Linked DNA regions of Homo sapiens: region 2 is linked to region 1. The links come from fine-mapping of genetic effects on gene expression. A gene starts in region 1. The other region holds a variant in brackets. All regions are shown on one strand. Distances are between the middles of the regions. Region 1 holds the start of SLC29A2 (solute carrier family 29 member 2). Region 2 has its middle 18 kb from the start of RBM4B.

Region 1 (15,849 bases):
GCCTCTGCCTCCCTGGGATTACAGGTGTGCACCACCACACCTGCTAATTGTTATCTTTTTAGTAGAGACGGGGTTTCACCATGTTGGCCAGGCTGGTCTCGAACTCCTGACCTCGTGATCCACCCGCCTCGGCCTCCCAGAGTGCTGGGATTACAGGTGTGAGCCACCGCGTCCAGCCCCAGAGTGCTAGGATTATAGGTGTGAGCCACCACGCCTGGCCCACCCATAGGATAGACCCATCTGTCACCCCCTGACCTCCTCTGACCTGACCTACCTTGTGAGCCAGTGAGGGAGGACCCAGCACTGGGGCCTGGGCCAAGTCCACCCAGAAATCAGGGACTGGCCTGGGGCTCACCTCTGCCTCTCCCAGGCTCCAGCTTGTGCTCTCCACCGCATCTACAGTTTACGTACTCGGTTCCTCAGAGCACCCACTGGTGGTTCCACAGACCCCCTTGGGGGCAGATGGGGTTTCTGAGTGGGATTGGAAGCTGTAGATCAGCTCCTGTCCTGACTTGGATGAGACCAGCTCCTCTTTCACCTGCGTTATGTATTGTCTCTTTGGAAGATTTCATTTAAAGATACAGTACCATGGCTAAAACCAACCCCAAAACTAAGACTCTTGCTCAGTCCCTCACCTGGTGCAGGAACCTCCATGTAACATTCTCTGAGCAGCAAAGGCTGGATGCTGGGGACACAGAGGTCAGCTGGACATGATTTTTGCTTTCAGGGAGCTCACAGTGCAAGCCCTGGCCTGCACGCCTCCAGGGCCCAAGTGCTCCCTGCTGCTTGGCCAGTGGTTGCATTACCAGGCCATTTGGACTACCAGAAAATCACCTCCATGCTCTTTCAAGCCCTCGGATCCCAAACTGCTTCCTAAAACATCGGATCACCCAGCCCTGGTGTGCTTACCCACAGGAAGTAAGAGGTCAGGCTCCGTCCCAGCCAGTCCATGATGTTGAAGAGGAGGAAGCAGCAGATGGGGTTGAAGAACTGACCTGGGAGGGAAACGGCTGCAGCTCATACTGGTCTCCAACTCCCCTCTCCCGTCCTCTCCCCTTTGTACCCCCTGCCCTGCCGTCTTCTCCACCCTGACACTCACTCCACTTCCCAGGACTGGTGGAGCTGGTCACCATGGCTGTGATGGCGGGGAAGACGGACAGGGTGACTGTGAAGACCAACACAAGGCACAGCGCTGTCAGCCAGATCTGGGAGCCAGAGGCAGGGGTGTGAGCAGGCAGGGCAGTCCCAGGGCCCCACCCTCTTGCCCAAGCCCCATGTGGGAGCAGGACACTTGGGGCCTGGCCCAGCTGTGTCCCTGACCCACTGTGACCCTATGACCTTGGAGTCAATGTGAGCCCCATTCTTCCCCAAAGATGGTGGTTGGGGGCTGTATCCAAGCCAAACCTTCTGGAAGACAGTGAAGACTGAAGGTTTTCCTGGCTTCTGGGGCTCATCTGGCTCTGATTCCGGCTCCTTCTCCAGGTCAAGATCCAGGGTCAGAGCTACTTTCTGGGGACTACTGGGAATCCCGTTCTCATCTGGGGTGAGGGGGGACGGGGAAGGGTCATGCTTGTGACCCAGGTTTCCCGACAGCCAGGCCCAACGAAGGGAGATTCCCAGCAGTTAAAACAAGTGATCCTCAGCTCAGCATGGTGGCTCACGCCTGTAATCCCAACATTTTGGAAGGCCGAGGCGGGCATATTGCTTGAGCCCAGGAGTTCGAGACCAGCCTGGGCAACATGGTGAATCCCCATTTCTACAAAAATAAAAAAATTAGCCGGGCATGGCAGCCTGCACCTATAGTCCCAGCTACTCGGGAGACTGAGGTGGCTCACTTGAGCCCAGGAGGTCGAGGCTGCAGTTGAGTTGTGATAGCACTGCAGTGCAGCCTAGGTGACAGAGTGAGATCCTGACTCAAAATAACAACAACCCCCTCACCCCAAAACAAAAAAAGGTGATCTTCCTCCAGCCTAAGCTGAGGCTGCAGGCGAAGGGAATTCATGATGGAAATATGCATAGCTACCAGGAAGCGCGTGCATGGGTCGGGTGATGAGCGAAGCACCTTAGATGGATTATCTCATTACCATTGCTTTACAAATGACACATTGAGGTTCAGAGGGGTGCAGTGGCTAAGTGGTTTGTCTCAGGCCACACAGCTGGGATGTTGTGAAACTAGTATTCCAATTCAGAGGTCTTCGGATCCAAAGTTTGCATGCATGGAACCTCTGTCGCCTCCCCATTTTATAGAGGTGGAAACTGAGGCCCAAACAACAGCAGGGATGACTTTAATCCTACCAACTTCCCTTCATGATCTTCCTGTTTGCACAAGGCTACTAGGGGTGGGCTCTGGCTGGGAACAGATGGAACAGCTTCCCAGGGGAGGTGGCTCTAGCTTCCTCTGCATCTCCCACCTCCCCAGGAGGGTCTCAGGGCTTACCAGACTGGAGGAGCTCAGCTTTGGTCTCCAGCTCCTGAGCTTGGGCCTGGGATGATTTATTGGCCAGGTAGTAGCGGGCAAACTTCTGCAGAAGGACAGGAAAGTGTTGGGCCTGCCTGGCTTGCCTGAGGTGTCTGGATCCCTCCCCATACCATTGGCCTGGAGGCTGGGGCCCCTCAGTGTCTTCTCTGGGGGTCAGGGCTGAGACCAGGTCTCCTCCACCTCCCCTGGCCTCTCTCAGGGCCTCAGGCTCAGGACTCTATCCAAGATGCTTTGAGGTGGGGCCTCGAGCCCAACAGCAGGCTCACCAGGTGAGGCAGGCTCAGGTAACACACGATGGACATGAGGATGCCCACACAGGGCGTGATAAAGTACCCCAGGGCAGAGGTCTCGGCGTCCACGCCACCTGCGGAGGAACTTCAGCTGCAGAAGAGAGGCACCTGGTCCCGCCGGCTCCCACGGGGCTTCCAACTCTTGTCCCACTTCCCATTGTGTACTTCTCAGACCCACTCCCAGCCTCTTCCGCTCCTCCCTTCACTGACAAATGGGAATCTTGTACAGGGCCCCAGAGCAGCCCTGCACTTCTCTCACTTTCCCCATGTGTCATTTTTGTTGAGCACGTACTATGTGCCAGTAGCCTTCTCTCATTGCATGCTCATTACAATCTGAGCAGGGAGCTATACCAATCACGTCGGTGGGGAAGCTAGCACAGAGAGGTGACAAGCCTTGTCCAACACCCCTAGCTGGTAAGCGGTGAAGCAGATTCAAACCCAAGACTATCTGAATCCCAAACCCATCCCCTTATCCTTCAACTTCAACCTGCTGCCACATGCCAGTATTAGCCCCAGGAATCCTGCCCCTGTCCCTGAGTTAACCCAGTCCTCACTTGGTTATTACTCCTCACTGCAGGGCCCATGAGCCCCACTCCCTAGCCCCAGACCCAATCCCCATTTCCATATCACCTGCTTACCTCCATCTTCACCCAGAACCCATGTGTCTTGCTCTCACATGCCCTCTCTCTTCCCCAAACCTCAGAGGCCACCCCAGCCCTCCAGCCACCCAAGTGCACTCACTGGCCATGGACAGGAGCATGGCAAGGGCAGCAAAGATCCCAGCCAGGCCCTGGCCGCTGAGGAAGAGGGTGCTGTAGGTGGAGGGCATGGTGCCCAGCTGCCCGAAGAGGCTGCCCTGTAGGACTGCACTGAAGGCTGTGGAGGACAGGGATGGGGGCTGCTGCTCAACTAGGCAAGACTCAGAGGCTCCCTGGAGGAGGTGCCGGCAGGATACACAGGGGACTCTGGACAAGGTTGCGCAGGTGTGAGCTTCCCTAGGGACTCTGAGCACTCGGGGGCAACACCCGCTATTCAGTCCTCTTCTGAGGTGCAGCCATTGGTCTGTGGGGCTGTTGACCAGGAGGCCTGCTCCTAGGTCACCGGACAAGTGACTCTTCCCCTCCCTGTGGGCCTCAGTTTCTTCACCAGGGATATGAGCGACCATGATGCTGTCTGCCCTTCTCGGATATGCTGGGCCCTTTCAATGATGAGGCCAGGCTGAAGCCCTGCATAGGCTGGCTGGAGAGGGGGTGGAGGTGCTCACAGTTGATGAAGCAGACGGAGGCCATGGTGATGGAGAAGAAGGGTCCGGGGCTCATGTCCACCTTGACCAGCGCTGCTGTCAGGGCAAAGAGCAGCAGTATGGCCAGCAGGCTGCCCAGAATGCGCACCGTCTCCGGGACGCTGCTCAGAAGCAGGCAGAGTGCATCAGTGGGGCCCAGGCCAGAGGGGGCTGGGGAAGGAGGCTCGACACCTGGGGCTGGGCAGTAGGGCTGGGGGGCAGGGGGCGCAGGGGAGGGCCTCAATGAAGCTGCCTCGGCAGAGGGCGCAGGAGCCAGGGCAGGCCTCTCACCACTGGTACAGGAAGGAGTTGAGGAGGGTGAAGAGCAGCAGGGGCAGCTGGGACAGCAGCGTCACCCAATTGTTGAAGTTGAAGGCATCCTCGGGACCCGTGTGGTTGGTGCTCAGGATCCTGGCTGTGCTGTTGCCGGCCCCGGCCAGTCGCGCCTGGAAGTACTGCCAGGTGGGGAGGTGGTGGAGGGTCAGCACCTCTCAGCCTTCCCCCGCTGCCTTCCCCCTCACTTGTGATTGCTTTCTAATGTCTGTGGGGACTTGTCTGCCTTGTCCTTGTTCTGTTCCCAGCAGCCGGCACACAGTCGGAGCTCCATGAATGTGTGCTGAGTTAAATGGCTGAAGTCTGGGACACAGCCTAAGCATTAAGAGCCCCCAGCAAGAGCCTCGATCCAGCCTTGGACGGCCCCTCCTCTTCAGTGCCCTGGTTCCAGCCCCCATCCCCACTCCTGCAGCAGCTGCTACATTCATTCATTCCACGGGTATTTATTGAGCGCCTACTGTCAGCCAGGCTTTGGCCTAGGTGCTGAACAACTGCATTCTCTCTAGAGCACATAGCCTGCCACTCCTCTGCTTAACCTCCTCACTCCTCAACACCCCGATTCATGCCTCCCTATTGCCTGCAGGGCAAAGCCCCAAATGGAACAGCTCTTCAGAATCAGATCCTAGTCTCCCTTTGTGCCCCATCTTCTGCTCCATCCTGCTAAGCTCCAGGCAGCCCTGGCTGTGGATCTCCCTCTAAACAGGCTGATCGTCTCTTGCCTGCCTGCCTTTGGCATGGCTGTCGCCTCGGCCTGGAATGCCCTACTGACCACACCCCTCCACATGCACTTTGCCTACCCTACTCCCAATTTACAAATCTCCTCTTCCATGAAGCAGAAGGAACTTTCTCCCTCCCCTGGGGACCCACTGCACTCTGCTGCAAGCCTGGAATGTCACGCATCATGTTACATTATTAATAGCTCTTTGGCCCCCTCTTGCTCTCAAGCCCAGGGGCTGATTCATCTCTGGGTTTCCAGGGCCCAGCACAGAGCCAGTACCCAAGAAGCATTTGCAAAGTTGTTGCAGTGAATACAGATGAATAACCCGGTCCCAAAGACAATGCAAACCCCACATTTCTGCCTTCCCTGAAGAGCCTCCCTGCTGTTTCCTCCTGTGTCCCCAGTGCCTGCTCCACAGTAGATGCACATTAAAAGTTTGTTGAATGAGGCTGGGCACGGTGGCTCACGCCTGTAATCCCAGCACTTTGGGAGGCCGAGGCGGGAGGATCACGAGGTCAGGAGATCGAGACCATCCTGGCTAACACGGTGAAACCCCGTCTCTACTAAAAATACAAAAAAAAATAGCCGCGCGTGGCGGCGGGCGCCTGTAGTCCCAGCTACTCGGGAGGGTGAGGCAGGAGAATGGCGTGAACCCGGGAGGCGGAGCTTGCAGTGAGCCGAGATGGCGCCACTGCACTCCAGCCTGGGCGAAAGAGCCAGACTCTGTCTCAAAAAAAAAAAAAAAAAAAAAGTTTGTTGAATGAATGAGTGAATGAATGAAATTCATGGTATTTCAAAGAAAATCAAACGTTCGATAACCGACTTTTGGGGTGACTGACTCAGGAATAACGACACACAGAGAGGGGTGGCAGCGCCTTTGCTCATTCCAGACCCTGTGGGCTGGTGGCCTTGCCCCTCTGAGATGTGGGCATTGCTGAAGTTCTACTTTCCTAGCCACGGGGGAAGCATTCCCCTCTCCGAGCTTCAGCCCATAATGAGCTCAACGAGGGGTCACAGGTGCGCGGTGAGGAAGCGCCCGCTAAGCTTCATCCAAAGGGCTGGAGGGAGGGGTGCTGGCTGTGGCCACGAGGCTGCCACGCCGCCAGGAGTCTCACCGGGATGGCGGTGATGAAGAAGTTCCAGGGAAGGAGGGTGCCCAGCCCCAGGATGAAGAAGCTGATCCCGACCAGGTGGTAGCTGTGGGGATCGGTGGGAAGGTCACCCCGAGGACGCACCCGCCTCCGCAGGCCCTCCCGCCTCCCAGGCCACCCCCTCCGGAGCGGACTACAACCCCGATCACCCCGGTTCCGGCGGCCGAGGGAGTCGGCTGATGGGAATTGTAGTTCGATCCGGTCTTCTCTGAGCCTCGGAGCGCCTTCAGGGAGCGGGTCTGCAACGCCCCCGGCCACTTGCAACGCACCCGGGCCCACTCACCTGTCCCGCGGGGCGTCTCCTCGCGCCATGGCCGCCGCGGCGGATGCGCCTGGGGTGAAAGGGGCAGAGAAGCCGCACCTGCACCTGCGCTGGGGCGGAGGGCCGCAGACCGGTGGGGCGGGGGGCGGGTCTCCCCAGATTCCGGTGCAGGGCGGCTGGAGTCGCACAGGTAGCCTCGGGCGGATTTCGGCGTGTCTCGCGCTCCGCAGGCTGGGACCTGGGCTCCGCCCCGAGGCGGGGACAGAGGGTCGCGCCACCCGTCTCTCCTTCCCCCACCCGCCTCAGGGACTCGACTCTGGCTCGGGCCCCGCCCCACCTAGGGGCCTGCGGAACCCGCCCGCTCCCCGCACAGCCCCTCCCCGCAGCCCCCCGTCCTCTCCGCGGGGGCGGGTCCCGGATCCCTGCGGCGGAGGGGAAGGCGGGGGTAGGGACGAGGTGTAACCTCACCTCCACCCCCCGCCGAGAGCTCTGTAGGGGCAGCACTGGTGCGGGGCTCTTCCCGCTTCGTCAGCTCCGAGGTGATGCCAGAGCCGCTCCTGCGACCCCTAAAGCTGGAACCCACCGGGGCGCCCCCTAACTAGGGAGCCGCTGCGGAGTCCCCGCCCAGAGCGTAACCCGAGCCGGGCCCGGGCGGGGGAACCAGAGCTGCCACAGGTCGCCCGCGATCCTGGCGGGCTTCGCCGCGCTGGGTCCCCGGGAGTGCCTGGAAAAAAACAGCATTACTTTCAACTCCCTACTCTTTTTCTGTTAAAAAAAAAAATTTGAAAAGACTATAAATCATTAATTTGCTCCTACTCTCATAATCTACGAATAGGTGTGGGTTCTCTGCAATCCCCGGGCGTATCGGGGACGCTGGAGAAGTGAGAGGCTCCAAAACACAAACTAGTTTTTTTGAGACTGAGTGTCGCTCTGTCGCCCAGGCGGAAGTGCAGTGGCGTGATCTTGGCTCACTGCAACCTCCCCCTCCCAGGCAGGTTCAAGCGATTCTGGTGCCTCAGCCTCAGGAGTAGCTGGGACTACAGGCGCATGCCACCACGTCCGGTTAATTTTTGTATTTTTAGTAGAAACGGGGCTTCACCAGCTCTACTGAAGAGGTGGCCAGTCTAGTCTCGAACTCATCTTTTGACCAGGCTGGTCTCGAACTCTTGACCTCAGGTGATCCGCCCGCATCGGCCTCCCAAAATGTTGCTATTACAGGCGTGAGCCACCACGCCCGGCCACAAACTATTTTCTTAAGCAATGACATTTTATAGCCATTCCCAGGTTGCTTATGTTTTTCCTCCAGCCGACTGAGAGTCTGTAGGGGCAGAGGCTGTGCTTATCTGGTCCATTGGTTTACTGGCAGCATCTAGCGCCGTTGAGTGATAAATGGGTGGTTGCAGTAAAATGCAGGTGATTTTAGGGAGAACAGAGACAGCATTAAATTACACCGAAAGAGAAAGTTATTCTTCCCATTTTCTTTCAAGCCTCTGAATATGTCAAGGGTGTTAACAGGTTGCTAACACTTCTTAATCTGCCTTCCCATCCCTTCCCCTCAGTTAGCCTCAGAGGGTCTGCTGACAATTTTATCAAAAGTTATTAACTTGTATTTTTCTTATATTTATTTTTATAGCAACTTTATTTTCAGGGCTACTCATACTGGTTTCCTATTTATGATTATGATATCAACTTTTCTTTGAAAAATCAATTTATTTATGGAAAATGAGTTATTTAAAGAAAAGCGAGGCCGCTGGTGCAGCACAGCTATGGCACAGGTTGTGAAGGAAGGACTTGAGAATGGAGGCTAGGGAGCACTGAATTTGTTGAGACAGTGAAGGGAGAGGATGAGGGCATTTCAGGGAGAGAACAGCCTGTCCCAAGACAAGGGACAAGAGAGTGCTGACACATTCTGGGACATACAAATAGATCCCTTTGGCTGGCATTGGTGGGAGGAGGGGACAGAGCCTCTACAACAGCCAGGCTGGTTATGGCAAGTCTGAGGGCTGATTAAGGAGTTCAGATTTCATTTCAAAGCACAGACGGTCAGCTGGAGCCGATTCCATCGTCCTTGTAATAAATATTTTGTTACTATCCTGCAATGAAACTCATATAAAACAAAACCTACCTATACACAATAACATTTGATGTCGAGATAATATCCTGATTTTACTGCAGATGAATCATAAGGGAAATTATTTAGTAATAACATGGTGTGTGTGAATGTGTTAATATTCATGGTACATGAAGCTGTCAAATGCTTGCCCTTCTTTCTAAAACTGCAGTGAATCCACGGCTACAAACTCACATGCGATACAGGCATGCAGTGAAACTGGCCACTCAGAGACCCACTAGTTTGCCAGGATTTTCTTTTCTTTTCTTACCTTTTTTTTTCTTTTCTTTTTCTCTTTTTTTTTCTTTTTTTTTTTTTTTTCAGACGGAGTCTCTCTCTGTTGCCCAGGCCAGAGTGCAGTGGCAGGATCTTGGCTCACTACAACCTCTGCCTCCTGGGCTCACACGATTCTCCTGCCTCAGCCTCCTGAGTAGCTGGGATTACAGGCGTGTGCCATGATGCCTGGCTAATTTTTGTATTTTTAGTAGAGACAGGATTTCGCCATGTTGGCCAGGCTGGTCTCGAGCTCCTGACCTCAGGTGATCTGCCCGTCTCAGCCTCCTAAAGTGCTGTAATTACAGGCATAAGCCACTAAACCCAGCCTCTTTTCTTTAAAAAAAAAAACAATTTTTTTTTTGAGACACAGTCTTGCTCTGTCACCTAGGCTAGAGTGCACTGGCGCAATCTCAGCTCACTGCAACCTCTGCCTCCCAGGTTCAAGTGATTCTCCTGCCTCAGCCTCCCCTAGTAGCTGGGATTACAGGCACAAGCCACTATGCCCGGCTAATTTTTGTATTTTTTAGTAAAGATGGGGTTTCACCATCTTGGCCATGCTAGTCTTGAACTCCTGACCTCGTGATCCACCCACCTCAGCCTCCTAAAGTGCTGGGATTACAGGCGTGAGCCACAGTGCCCGGCCTAAAAAAAAACTTTTTTCCTCATTTATGTTTTAAATTTTATTTTTATTTATTTTATTTTATTTTACTTATTATTATTATTTTTTAAGACAGAGTTTTGCTCTTATTGCCCAGGCTACAGTGCAGTGGTGCAATCTTGGCTCACTGCAAACTCCACCTTCCGGTTTCAAGCAATTCTCCTGCCTCAGCATCCCAAATTGCTGAGATTACAGGCGCCCACCACCACGCCCAGCTAATTTTTTTGTATTTTTAGTGGAGACAGGGTTTTACCATGTTGGTTAGGCTGATCTCGAACTGCTGACCTCGTGATCCACCTGCCTCGGCCTCCCAAAGTGCTGGGATTACAGGCGTGAGCCACCGCTCCTGGCCCTATTTATTTATTTTTTTGATACATAATAGATGTACATATTTTCAGGGTGTATGTGATAATTTAATCTATTCATATAATGTGTAAAGATCAAACTAGGACAACTGAGATGTCCATCACCTTAAATATTTGTCTTTTCTTTATGCTAGGATGTGATTTTCTTAAATGTGACCAAGTCCTGGTCAAGTTCCAAAGAAGTCAAAGGGCAGCTGTCCGTCAACACAGACAGTAGCTGTGTTACTGAAGAATGCTGTGTATATTCAAGCCTTGCAAATAATACATTTTGTCTAAATGTAAAAAGGATTTAGAGTCTAGGCTCAGAAAAATTATCAACATGGTTTTAAAAAATAAATAATAGATTTTATTTTTAGGTTGTACTTAATCTAATGTTAAACCTGTGTACTGAATTTCATTCAACATTGATGATGATGATGATGATGATGATGATGATGATGATGATTATTATTATTATTATTATTTGAGATGGAGTTTTGCTTTTGTTGCCCAGGCTGGAGTGCAATGGCGTGATCTCGGCTCACTGCAACCTCCACCTCCCAGGTTCAAGCGATTCTCCTGCCTCAGCCTCCCGAGTAGCTGGGATTACAGGTGCGAGCCACCACACCTGGCTAATTTTTGTATTTTTAGTAGAGACAGGGTTTCACCATGTTGGCCAGGCTGGTCTCGAACTCCTGACCTCAAGTGATCCACCGGCCTCAGCCTCCCAAAGTGCTGAGATTACAGGCATAAGCTACTGGGCCCAACCTGGCTTCTTTCATTTATATGTGTGCTTAAGGATCCTGCATGTCTTTTCTTGGCATGATAATTCATTTCTTTTTTTTTTAATTTTTTAAATTTTTGAGATGGAGTTTCACTCTTGTCGCCTAGACTGGAGTCCAGTGGCATGATCTCAGCTCACTGCAACCTCTGCCTCCCAGGTTCAAGTGATTCTTCTGCCTCAGCCTACCAAGTAGCTGGGATTACAGGTGCCTGCCACCATGCCCAGCTAATTTTTGTATTTTTAGCAAAGACAGGGTTTCCCCATGTTGACCAGGCTGGTCTCGAACTCCTGGCCTCAAGTGATCTGCCTGTCTCGACCTCCCAAAGTGCTGGGATTACAGGCATAAGCCACCGCGCCCAGGCAACACATTTATTTTTATTGCTAAATAATACTCCATTGTATGAATTGCCATGGTTTGTTTATCCATTTACCTATTTCAAGACGTCTTGGTGGCTTCCATGTTTTGGTGATCACAAATAAAGATGCTATACACAATTGTGTGGAGGTTTTTGTGTGGACATAAGTTTTCAATTTATTTGGGTTAAATGCCGAGGAGCACCATTGCTAGGTCATATGGTAAGACTGTTTAGTTTGGTAAGAAACTGCCAAACTATCTTCCAAAGTGCCTGTACCATTTTTTGTTCCCAGCAACAATGAAACAATTCTTGATGCTCCACATTTTTGTGGGCACTTGGTGTTAATGTTTTAGAGTTTAGCCAGTCTAATAAGTGTGCAGCGATATCTTGTTTTATTTATTTATTTATTTGTTAATTTTTGTATTTTTTTGAGACGGAGTCTCACTCTGTCGCCCAGGCTGGAGTGCAATGGCTCAATCTCGGCTCACTGCAACCTCTGCCTCCCGGGTTCAAGTGATTCTCTGCCTCAGCCTCACCAGTAGCTGGGATTACAGGTGCACGTCACCATGCCCAGCTGATTTTGTGTATTTGCAGTAGAGATGGGGTTTCACCGTGTTGGCCAGGCTGGTCTTGAACTCCTGACCGCAGGTGATCCACCTGCCTCGGCCTCCCAAAGTGCTGGGATTACAGATGTGAGCCACCATGCCTGGCCCTTTTTTGTATATTTTGGATAACAGTCTGTTATCTGATGTGTGTGTTGAAAATATTTTATCCAGTCTGTGGCTTTTCTCTTCATTCTCTCAACAGTGTCTTTCGCAGGGCAGAAGTTTTTAATTTTAACGAAGTCCAACCTATACTACTTATTTCATGCCTTGTGCCTTTGGAGTTGTATCTAAAAAGTTATCACTATATCCAAGATGATCTAGGTTTTCTCCTATGTTATCTTCTAGGAGTTTTATATAGTTATGTACAGTTTAAGTGTTTTATATAGCTTTGTGTTTTACATGACCAATTTTAAGCTAATGTTTGTGAATGATTTAAGGTCTGTGTCTAGATTCAATTTTCCCATGTGGATGTCCAGTCGTTCCAGCACCGTTTGTTGAAAAGACTGTCTTTATTCTGTTGTATTTCCTTTGCTCCTTTGACCAAGATCATTTGACTATATTTATGTGGCTCTATTTCTGGGCTCTGAGTTCTGTTTCATTGATCTATTTGTCTATTCTTTCACTAATAGCACACTCTCTTGATAACTGTAGCTATATTAATTTTTTTTTTTTGAAATGGAGTCTCGCTCAGTTGCCCAGGCTGGAGTGCAGTGGTGCGATCTTGGCTCACTGCAACCTCCACCTCCCGGGTTCAGGCGATTATCCTGCCTCAGCCTCTTGAGTAGCTGGGACTACAGGCACATGCCATCATGCCCAGCTAATTTTTGTATTTTTAGTAGAGACCGTGTTTCACCATATTGGTCAGGCTGGTCTTGAAATCCTGACCTCGTAATCTGCCTGCCTCGGCCTCCCACAGTGCTGAGATTACAGGCATGAGCCACCGCTCCTGGCCGTTATATTAAATACTTAACTTGGGTAGTGTCAGTCCTTTGAGTTTGCTCTTTTCCTATATTGTGTTGGCTATTCTGAGTCTTTTGCCACTTCACCTAAGCTTTAGAATCAGTTTGTCAATATCCACAAAATAATTTTCTGGGATTTTGATTGGAATCATGCTTAATCTATAGATCAAGTTGGGAAGGAGAGATATCTTGACAATATGAAGCTCTCCTATCCATGAACAGGGAATATCTCTCCATTTTATTTATTTATTTATTTATTTATTTATTTATTTATTTATTTATTTAATTTTGAGACAAGGTCTCACTCGGATGTCCAGGTTGGAGTGCAACGGTGCAGTGACAGCTGACTGCAGCCTCAACCTCCCGGGCTCAGTCGATCCTCCCTCCTCAGCCTCCTGAGTAGCTGGAACCACAGGCATGTGCCACCACTGAGCTAATTTTTTAATTTTTTGTAGAGAATAAGTCTCACTATGTTTCCCAGACTCATCTCAAACTCTTGGACTCAAGTGATCCTTCTACCTTGGCCTCCCAAAGTGCTGGAATCCTAGGCATGAGCCACCGGTCCCAGGCCTCTCCATTTATTTAATTCTTCTTTGATATCTTTCATCAGAGTCTTACAGTTTTCCTCATATGGATCTTGCATATTTTGTTATATTCATTACACGTAACTATTTCCATTTCTGGGATGGTAATGTAAATTATAATGTGCTTTCATGTATGTTTATTGCAGCACTATTCACAATAACAAAGACTTGGAACCAACCCAAATGTCCATCAATGATAGACTGGATTAAGAAAATGTGGCACATATACATCATGGAATATATGCAGCCATAAAAAAGGATGAGTTCAGCTGGGCGCGGTGACTCATGCCTGTAATCCCAGCACTTTGGGAGGCCAAGGCAGGCGGATCACGAGGTCAGGATATCAAAACCATCCTGGCTAACACAGTGAAACCCGTCTCTACTAAAAATACAAAAAAATTAGCAGGGCGCGGTGGCGGGCGCCTGTAGTCCCAGCTACTCGGGAGGCTGAGGCAGGAGAATGGCATGAACCCAGGAGGCGGAGCTTGCAGTGAGCCGAGATCGTGCCACTGCACTCCAGCCTTGGGACAGAGCGAGACTCCGTCTCAAAAAAAAAAAAAAAAAAAAAAAAGGATGAGTTCATGTCCTTTGCAGGGACATGAATGCAGCTGGAAACCCTCATTTTGAGCAAACTATCACAAGGACAGAAAACCAAACACCGCGTGTTCTCACTCATAGGTGGGAATTGAACAATGAGAACACTTGGACACAGGGTGGGTAACGTCACACCCAGGGGCTTGTCGTGAGGTGGGGGGCAGGGGGAGGGATAGCATTAGGAGAAATACCTAATGCAAATGACGAGTTAATGGGCGCAGCAAACCAACATGGCACATGTATACCTATGGAACAAATCTGCACGTTGTGCACATGTACCCTAGAACTTAAAGTATAATAATAAAAAAAAAAAGAAAAGAGGAGCACCCACTAAAAATGTTTGGTTGATTTCACAAAGCAGTTTGTACCTTCTGAAATGTACAAGTTGCTAAAAAAAATTGCATTTTTTTCCTCTTTTTATAGAGTACATTCTTTTTTTTTTTTCTTTTGAGACAGAGTCTCGCTCTGTCGCCCAGGCTGGAGTGCAGTGGTGCGATCTTGGCTCACTGCAAGCTCCGCCTCCTAGGTTCACGCCATTCTCCTGCCTCAGCCTCCCTAGTAGCTGGGACTACAGGCGCCCGCCACCACGCCCTGCTAATTTTTTTGTATTTTTAGTAGAGACAGGGTTTCACCGTGTTAGCCAGGATAGTCTTGATCTCCTGACCTCGTGATCCGCCCGTCTTGGCTTCCCAAAGTGCTGGGATTACAGGCGTGAGCCACCACGCCCGGCTATGGAGTACATTCTTAATGCGGTAAAAAAATTATAATGTGCTTTAAATTTTGCTCATTCATTGCTATATATAAGAATATGGGGCGGGGCGGGGTGGCTCACGCCTGTAATCCCAGCACTTCAGGAGTCCGAGGCGGGCGGATCACCTGAGGTCGGGAGTTCGAGACCAGCCTGACCAACATGGAGAAACCCCGTCTCTACTAAAAATACAAAAAAATTAGCTGGGCGTGGTGGCGCATGCCTGTAATCTCAGCTACTCGGGAGGCTGAGGTAGGAGAATCGCTTGAATGCAGGAGGCGGAGGTTGCGGTGAGCCAAGATCGCGCCATTGCACTCCAGCCTGGGCAACAAGAGCAAAACTCTGTCTCAAAAAAAAAAAAAAAAAAAAAAAAAGATTGACTTTTGAATATTAACCTGTATCCTCCAGCCTTGGTATAATTGCTTATTATTTCCAAAGCTTTTTTGATTCTTTCAGGTTTTCTACCTAGGAAATTATGTCATTAGCAAACAAAGACAGTTTTATTTCTTCTTTCCCCATCTGTATGCCTTTTATTTCCTTTTATTAACTTATTGTGTTGGCTAAAACTTCCAGTAGGATGTTGAAAAGCAGTGGTGAGAGGGGACATTCTTGCCTTGTCCCTGATCTTACCAGAAAAGCTTCAAGTTTGTCGCTATAAAGTATATAGTTAGCTGTAGTTTTTTTGTGGATGCTCTTCATCAAGTTGCTTTCTAACCCACAAAATGTCTATTTCCCATGATTCAACCTAATAACAACGTGGGAAAACATTCATTGATTTGTAGTATTTTGTGAACATTCTTGATGGCCAAGTATTGTCGATGAACAATGCAGTAACTTGCTGAGTGGGCGGGTCACGAGGTGAGGAGATCAAGACAATCCTGGCCAACATGGTGATACCCCGTCTCTACTAAAAATACAAAAGTTAGCCAGGCGTGGCAGCACATACGTGCCTGTAATCCCAGCTACTCAGGAAGCTGAGGCAGGAGAATTGCTTGAACCTGGGAGGGGGAGGTTGCAGTGAGCAGAGATTGCACCACTGCACTCCAGCCTGGCTACAGAGCTAGACTCTGTCTCAAAAAATAATAATAATAATAATAGAAATAAAAACCAAACAAGCAAAAACAAGACAAAATAAAAACCAACCCTCTTTGCCACTGCTGGAAGCGGTTGGCTGCATCACACCAACTCTTAACTCTGAACATTGGTAATTTAAGAGGAAACTATTCAGCATGTATGGGAAGTAATTAGGGTTGAAATATCATGATACTTGGTTTTTACTTTATATATTATATGTACTTTATATGTAATTATGTATT
Region 2 (8,000 bases), 290 kb after region 1:
TCTCGATCTCATGACCTTGTGATCCACCCGCCTCGGCCTCCCAAAGTGCTGGGATTACAGGTGTGAGCCACCGTGCCTGGCCTAATTTTCTATTTTTTTAGTAGAGACGGGGATTCTCCATGTCAGTCAGACTGGTCTCGAACTCCCAGCCTCAGTTGATCTGCTCACCTTGGCCTCCCAAAATGCTGAGGTTACAGGCATGAGCCACTATGCCCGGCCTGAAGTATTATTTTCAAACAATAAAATATACCAATTTTGAAAACAATTTGACACATTGTGACAATGTACTTTTTTGGGGGGCCTTTTGTTTTGTTTTTTAAAAAGATGGTGTCTCACTCTATTGCCCAGGCTGGAGTGCAGTGACATGATCTCGGTTCACTGCAATCTCCACCTCCCGGGTTCAAGCGATTTTTGTGCCTCAGCCTTTTGAGTAACTGGGATTATAGATGCATGCCACCATGTCCAGCTAATTTTTATATTTTTAGCAGAGACGGAGTTTCACCATGTTGGCCAGGCTGGTCTTGAACTCCTGACCTTAGGTGATCCACCACCTTGGCCGCCCAAAGTGCTGGGATTATAGGCACAGTCGTGAGCCACCATGCCCAGTTTGACAATGTACTGGTAATTTTGGTAACTGATGGTTACAATCTTGTTCCCATTGTTGCAATCAAAATACAGAACATTTTTGTCAGCCAAAAAGCCCTTGTGCCCCTTTGTAGTTAATCCTCAGCCCCTGATCAATTTTTTAGTCTTTTTTTTTTTTTTTTTTTTTTTTTAGGTGCGGTCTTGCTCTGTTGCCTAGGCTGGAGTACAGTGGTATGAGTATGGCTCAATGCAGCCTCAACCTTCTGAGCTGAAGCGGTCTTCCCATCTCAACCTTCCAAGTAGCTGGAACTACAGAGGTATGCACCATTGCACCTGGCTAATTTATTTTTTATTTTTATCTTTTGGTAGAGATGGGGTCTCCCTATGTTGCCCAGGCTGGTTAGGAACTCCTGGCTCAAGCTATACTCTTGTCTCAGCCTTCCAGACTACTAAGATTAGGCCGGGCGCGGTGGCTCACACCTGTAATCCCGGCACTTTGGGAGGCCGAGGGGGTGGATCACTTGAGGTCAGGAGCTCGAGAGCAGCCTGGCCGACATGATGAAACCCCGTCTCTACTAAAAATGTAAAATATTAGCCAGTTGTCGTGGTGCGCACCTGTAGTCCCAGCTACTTGGGAGGCTGAGGCAGAAGAATCACTTGAACCCGGGAGGTGGAGGGTGCAGTGAGATGAGATAGCGCCACTGCACTCTAGCCTGGGCGACAGAGCAAGATTCCATCTCAAAAAAAAAAAAAAAAAAAAAAAAAATTATAGGCATGAGCCACCTCGCCTGCCCCCTCCCCCACCTTTTTTTTGAGACAGGGTCTTCCTATGTCACCCAGGCTGGAGTGCCGTGTTCAACCTCCACCTCCTCCCGGGCTCAAGCAATTCTCTCACCTCAGCCTCCCGAGTAGCTGGGACCACTGGCGCATGCCAGCATGCCCAACTAATTTCTGTATTTTGTAGTTGTGGTTTTGCCATGTTGCCCAGGCTGGTCTTGAACTCCTGAGCTCTAGCCATTTGCCTGCCTCAGCCTCCCAAAGTGCTGGGATTACAGGCGTGAGCCACCTAGTCTGACCCTTTTTTAAAATTTTTTTTTTTTGAGATGGAGTTTTGCTCTTGTTGCCCAGGCTGCTGGAGTGCAACGGCACGATCTCGGCTCAGTGCAACCTCTGCCTCCTGGATTCAAGCGATTCTGCTGCCTCAGCCTCCCTAGTAGCTGGGATTACAGGCATGCACCACCACGCCCGTCTAATTTTGTATTTTTAGTAGAGATGGGGTTTCTCCGTGGTGGTCAGGTTGGTTTTGAACTCCCGACCTCAGGTAATCCGCCTGCCTCGGCCTCCCAAAATGCTGGGATTACAGGCGTGAGCCACTGTGCCTGGCCTAGTCTGACCTTTTTTTTTTTTTTTTTTTTTTTTTCGTTTTGTTTTAAATGGGCAACTAGAATAGGCTCAGAGATTCCCTGAAATCATTGTTAATTGTCACAATTTAGGGGGTTTCTCCCGCCAGGGATGTGGCTAAACATCCTCCAATGCACAGGAGGGGCACCTTTCCCAGTTATCACTAGTGCCAAGTTTGAAATCCTCTTCAAGACTTCATTCATTGCTTTGGCTTTGTATACCATATGGAGTTGTGCTGTTCAGTGTGGTAGCCAGAGACATATACAGTGCTGCGAGTACCAAATACCTATGGGATTTAAAAAATTAATATAAGCCAGGCGCAGTGGCTCACGCCTGTAATCCCAGCACTTTGGGAGGCCAAGGTGGGCAGATCACTTGATGTCAGGAGTTTGAGACCAGCCTGGCCAAGGTGGTGAAACCCCATCTCTACTAAAAATACAAAACTTAGCCAGGCGTGGTGGCACGTGCCTGTAGTCCCAGCTTCTTGGGAGGCTGAGACAGGAGAATTGCTTGTACCTGGGAGGCGGAGGTTCTATTGAGCCAAGATTGGGCCACGGCACTCTAGCCTGGGCAACAGAGCAAGAGTGTCTCTCAAAAAAAAAAAATATATATATATATATATTCAGTTTTTAATGCTCATTATATGTTGAAATGGTCATTTTTTTGCACATATTGGGTAAAAATACATTAAAATTTTTTTTTTTCCTAACCACCAGACTATCTGGGGAAAATAAAATTAATACAATTTAATTTCACCTGTTTCAGTTCCCTATGTGGTTTGCATTTGTGGCTCACATTGTATTTCTGTTATGTAACACTGATCCAGGTGCTAAAGACTCTTGATATCTCCAGTTTGAAACCTCTCTTCTGTGCTCAAGATTCAGGGATCTGGACACCTAGCTGACATTTCTTCTTGGTTCTTTTTTTTTTTTTTTTTTTTTTTTTGAGATGGAGTCTCACTCTGTTGCCCAGGCTGTAGTGCAGTGGCGCGATCTCGGCTCACTGCAAGCTCCGCCCCCCGGATTCAAGTGATTCTTCTGCCTCAGTCTCCTGAGTAGCTAGGACTACAGGCACGTGCCACTACACCTGGCTAATTTTTGTATCTTTAGATACAAAATTTAGAGACGGGATTTCACCATATTGGCCAGGCTGGTCTCGAACTACCGACCTCGGGTTCTGCCCGCCTTGGCCTCCCAACTTGCTGGGATTACAGGCATGAGCTACTGCACCTGGCTGGTTGTCTTAATACACCTCAAACTTGGTATATCTGAGATAGAGCTCCTGAGACTCCCCACTCTAAAATCATTTCTCCTTCAGTCTTCCTTATCCCATTCTCTCTTTCAGCCAGATTGCTGGTAGTCATTCTTACGCCCTCCCCAACCATTAGCAGCTCTTGATCATGTTTATATCACATGTTGCCTCTTTTCTCCATGTCTTTGCCACAGCCATAGTCTAGACCATGCTATCCTCTCCCACCAAGATGACTACAGTGACCTCCAGGTCCATCTTTTTCTTACCCTTGGGTCTTCAAAGTATTCTCCATTTAATAGCCAGAATGTTCTTGTGAAATGTATGTAAATCAGATGTTTCTTTCGTTACTTAGAACCTTTCAGCAACTTCCCCTTTTATCTAAAGTAAAATGCCCAATCCCTTAGTTTGAACGTGCCTTTCCTCTGTCACACTTTAT[T/C]ATCTCAGGCCCTTTTCCCTGCTTATCTATCCTTTTCTGACCATACTGACTCTCCTTTCAGATCCTTGTATACACTGAGCTCTTTCCTGCCTCAGGGCCTTTTTTTTTTTTTTTTTTTTAAATCTGAAGGGACCTTTCTCTTTACTGCTTTAGAGCTAACTTAACTTCAGGTCTTAGCTTCAGGATCAAGTATTGGAATGCCCTCCCAAACCACCTGTAGCTTAGTAGATATGTCCTCCCATTATTCCCTGCCATTGGACCCATTTTGTGTAATTTGTGGTACTTATCACAATTTCTTTTTTTTTGAGATGGGAGTCTCTCTTTTTTTTTTTTTTTTTTTGAGACAGAGTCTTGCTCTGCAACCAGGCTGGAGTGCAGTGGCACGATCTTGGCTCACTACAACCTTTGCCTCCTGGGTTCAAGTGATTCTCCTACTTCAGCCTACTGAATAGCTGGAATTACAGGCTTCTGCCTAATTTTTTTGTAGTTTTAGTAGAGACAGGGTTTCGCCATGTTGTCCTGGCTGGTCTCAAACTCCAGACCTCAGGTGATCCTTCTACCTCGGCTCCCAAAGTGCTGGGATTACAGGTGTAGGTAGGCCACTGCACCCGACCTAAACTTTTTTTTTTTTTTTTTAATTTGAGATGGAGTCTTGCTCTGTCGCCCAGGCTGGAGTGCAGTGGTGCGATCTCAGCTCACTGCAAGCTCTGCCTCCCGGGTTCACGCCATTCTTCTGCCTCAGCCTCCCGAGTAGCTGGGACTACAGGCATGTGCCACCATACCTGGCTAATTTTTTTTGTATTTTTAGTAGAGGCAGGGTTTCACCATGTTAGCCAGGATGGTCTCGATCTCCTGACCTCGTGATCCACCCGACTCGGCCTCCCAAAGTGCTGGGATTACAGGCGTGAGCCACTGCGCTCAGCCGTGCCCGGCCTAAACTTTCTAAATCTCAGTAGCCTTAATTGCTGGGAGAGCCAGTGATGCTACCTCATTGGGTTCTTGTGGATTTGCAGGGGTGACAGATACACGGTTTGAATTTGGCCTGGATTCTCAAAGGCCCTGCAAACCTAAGGCACTTCAGATTGAATTCATCTCGTCAGATTTTTCATTCTTCTCCTGCAAGTTCCTGGAGCTGATTCTATCATTTCTTGCATTTCATTTCTCCTCAGCGGCAGAGCCTAGCTCTGGTCTGAAGAAAGCCGAGATTGATCTTCCAACAAACTGACAGCTCTTCCCAGGAATATTTATTTCTCCCCTCCTTCCTTTTCCCAAATCTCCTAGGCCAGGTGACTTCCTGAGGACCAGGTTTGTAAGCAAAATCCTGACAAGCTATGAAACCAATCTGGGGCAAGTTGCTTCCCTTTTCTGGTCCATCTTGCAGGCAGCCAACCTTTTTCTGCCCTTAGGACAAGTTTCTAACAGCACCTTGAGTGCCCTGAGGGCCTAGTGTCTTTCTGTGCCATGCTGGAAACCTGAGGAAGGGGGTAGATCTGAGGCTACAGAAACCACATATGCCTCATTCATCACCATGTTCCCACATCCTAGCTCATAGTAGGAATTCAAACAGTTGATAAATGAATTCAGGAGCTTTTAGCGTTGAGAGGCCTCATGGGACTCTGAAATGGTCTATAGTGAGAAACTTGGTGAACTAAAGGAATTTTGTATTCACAATATGCAATTTATCATATAAGAAGTAAGGTTTAGGAATAAAAACATTGGCCAGGTGTGGTGGCTCACGCCTGTAATCCCGGCACTTTGGGAAGCCGAGGTGGGTGGATCACCTGAGGTCAGGTGTTCAAGACCAGCCTGACCAATATGGTGAAACCCCATCTCCACTAAAAATACGAAAATTCACCAGGCGTGGTGGCGCGCGACTGTGATCCCAGCTACTGGGGAGGTTGAGACAGGAGAATTGCTTGAACCTGGGAGGCAGAGGTTGCAGTGAGCCGAGATCATGCCAGTGCACTCCAGCCTCAGTGACAGAGCGAGACTCCATCTCAAAACAAAAAAATACATTTGTCCTACTCAACAGTACTCTTTTGGTGTGAAAGGTTTTCTAAAATAAAAATTATGCAATTCTGCAGGGCTTTTTCTCCACCTATGAGCAGCTTATTTTACTATCTAAACTGCTGTCCAATAGAGTAGCCACTAGCTACATGTAGCTAATTATAATTAAATAAAAAACTCAGTTTCTCAGTGGAATAAACCACATTTCAGGTACTCAGTAACCACAGTAGCCACAAATTGGACAGCACAGATATGGAACACTTCCATCACTGCCAGGAGTGTTATTGGGCAGTGATGATATAGAACTCTTTTGCAGAAAATTTTTTTTCTTGTGCCAATGACATAGAAATCAAGATACTTTTATTTATTTATTTATTTTTTTGAGACAGAGTCTCACTCTGTTGCCCAGGCTGGAGTGCATTGGCGTGATCTTGGCTCACTGTAACCTCTGCCTCCTGGGTTCAAGCGATTCTTGTGCCTCAGCCTCCCTAGTAGCTGGGATTACAGGTGCACACCACCATGCCCGGCTAATTTTTTGTATTTTTAGTAGAGATGGGGTTTCACCATGTTGCCCAGGCTGGTCTCAAACTCTTGAGCTCGGGCAATCCACCTGCCTCAGCCTCCCAAAATGCTAGGATTACAGGCGTGAGTCACGCACCTGGTATATGTTAAACTTCCTATGTTAAATTGGTTGAAACCTAGCACAGAACCACCAGAGATTTTGCTGAGGCCAGCAAAACCTGCAAATTTTTTTTCTTGGCTCTGCATAGTGCCTTGCAGATCATAAGAAAATCCCAGCATCTTTGCCTTATTTTCCCTTTTGTAAAACAGAGACAGTCTTGCTTCCTTGGGGAATACTGACGCTAACATGAGCCTTATGTACATCACCACTGGTTGGAATGTGTGCATGGATGGACAGGTTAACTTCTGTAGATTGTCAGACCATTCCCCTAAGAAATAAGGGAAAATTTTTGCTTCACCTGTCAAGATTAAGTATAAAATATGTGAGGTAAATGCTTTATTATTGTAGGTAAAATTTCACATGTAGTCAGAATTTACACATCAACATTTCCATATAAAGTACAATAAAGCTTAAGTAGAGTTGAGTCCATCATTAAATGTGTTCTATGGGGATCTAAACAAAGATAAATAAGATGTCCATAATCTAGAAGACATACTTTACTGCAAAATGTCACTGCTAATCATTAATATGTGATTTGCTTTTCTGCTCAAAGTACTATGTATGAATATTTTAGCCAAAGCCTAATCCTAGCAGAATATTAGCACCTTGGGAAGACAGACCTCTTTTAATAGCTCATAAGTGAATTTAATTTTTTATTTTTTTGAGATGGAGTCTCGCTCTGTCACCCAGGCTGGAGTGCAGTGGCGTGATCTCGGCTCAGTGCAACCTCTGCCTCCTTGGTTCACGCCATTCTCCTGCCTCAGCCTCCCGAGTAGCTGGGACTACAGGCGCCCGCCACCACATCCAGCTAATTTTTTGTATTTTAGTCTTGATCTCCTGACCTCGTGATTCGTGTGCCTTGGCCTCCCAAAGTGCTGGGATTACAGGCATGAGCCACTGTGCCTGGCCTAATTGTTTTTTAAAAATTAAAAAAGGAGAAACACTGGAGAGGGGTGGTAACTAGGCAAAAATGTGTGTGTATATGTGTGTGTGTGTGTGTGTGTGTGTGTATATATGTTTTCTTTTTGTTTTGTAAATATGAGCCAGAAAACTATGAAGTCAAATTTAGTTAATGTGATAGGTCCTTGGAGAGAATCTGGCTCAGCCTTTTTCTGATGCAGGGCTTACTCCTAGCACTACTAATCTGAGTCTGTTAGCCTTTAAACTGGTTTAAGAGCAGCTCTGGTTAGAGAAAAGTAGCCTCACCACCAGCTGTAGCAAATTTAGCAGTGTCTCAAGAATCTGGCTAACTTCCTACCACCTATTACTGAAGCCACAGCACTAACCTAAATCCTTTTTTGTTGTTTTGGAGACAGGGCCTCCTGTTGCCCAGAATGGAGTGCAGTGGCATGATCACAGCTCACTGCAGCCTCAACCTCCTGGGCTCAAGAGTCTCCCACTTCAGCCTCTTGAGTAGCTGAGATTACAGGCATGCACCACCATGCCCAGCTGTTTTTTTTTTTTTTTTTTTTTGAGATGGGAGTACAGTGGTGCCATCTCGGCTCCCTGCAACCTCTGCCTCCTGGGATCAAGCAATTCTCCTGCCTCAGCCTCCCAAGTGCTGGGACTACAGGCACTCGCCACCACGCCTGGCTAATTTTTGTATTTTTAGTAGGGACAGGGTTTCGCCATGTTGGC

The links.
Region 2: its variant is fine-mapped to the expression of SLC29A2 in whole blood (TOPMed, PIP above 0.99).

Annotation. Positions count from the first base shown.
Region 1 is chr11:66,365,027-66,380,875 of GRCh38, forward strand. It overlaps SLC29A2 (solute carrier family 29 member 2), which reads right to left and starts at 6,734. Exons shown (of 12, transcript NM_001532.3): 1 at 6,537-6,734; 2 at 6,218-6,299; 3 at 4,343-4,506; 4 at 4,034-4,173; 5 at 3,511-3,645; 6 at 2,746-2,843; 7 at 2,438-2,522; 8 at 1,405-1,538; 9 at 1,100-1,205; 10 at 910-995. The coding sequence starts at 6,565. RefSeq lists a silencer at 6,430-7,189.
Region 2 is chr11:66,656,358-66,664,357 of GRCh38, forward strand. It overlaps a transcript of RBM4 not described here. Among named protein-coding and RNA genes, the nearest start is that of RBM4B, 18 kb to the right of the region's middle. The variant T/C (reference allele first, on the strand shown) is at 3,674.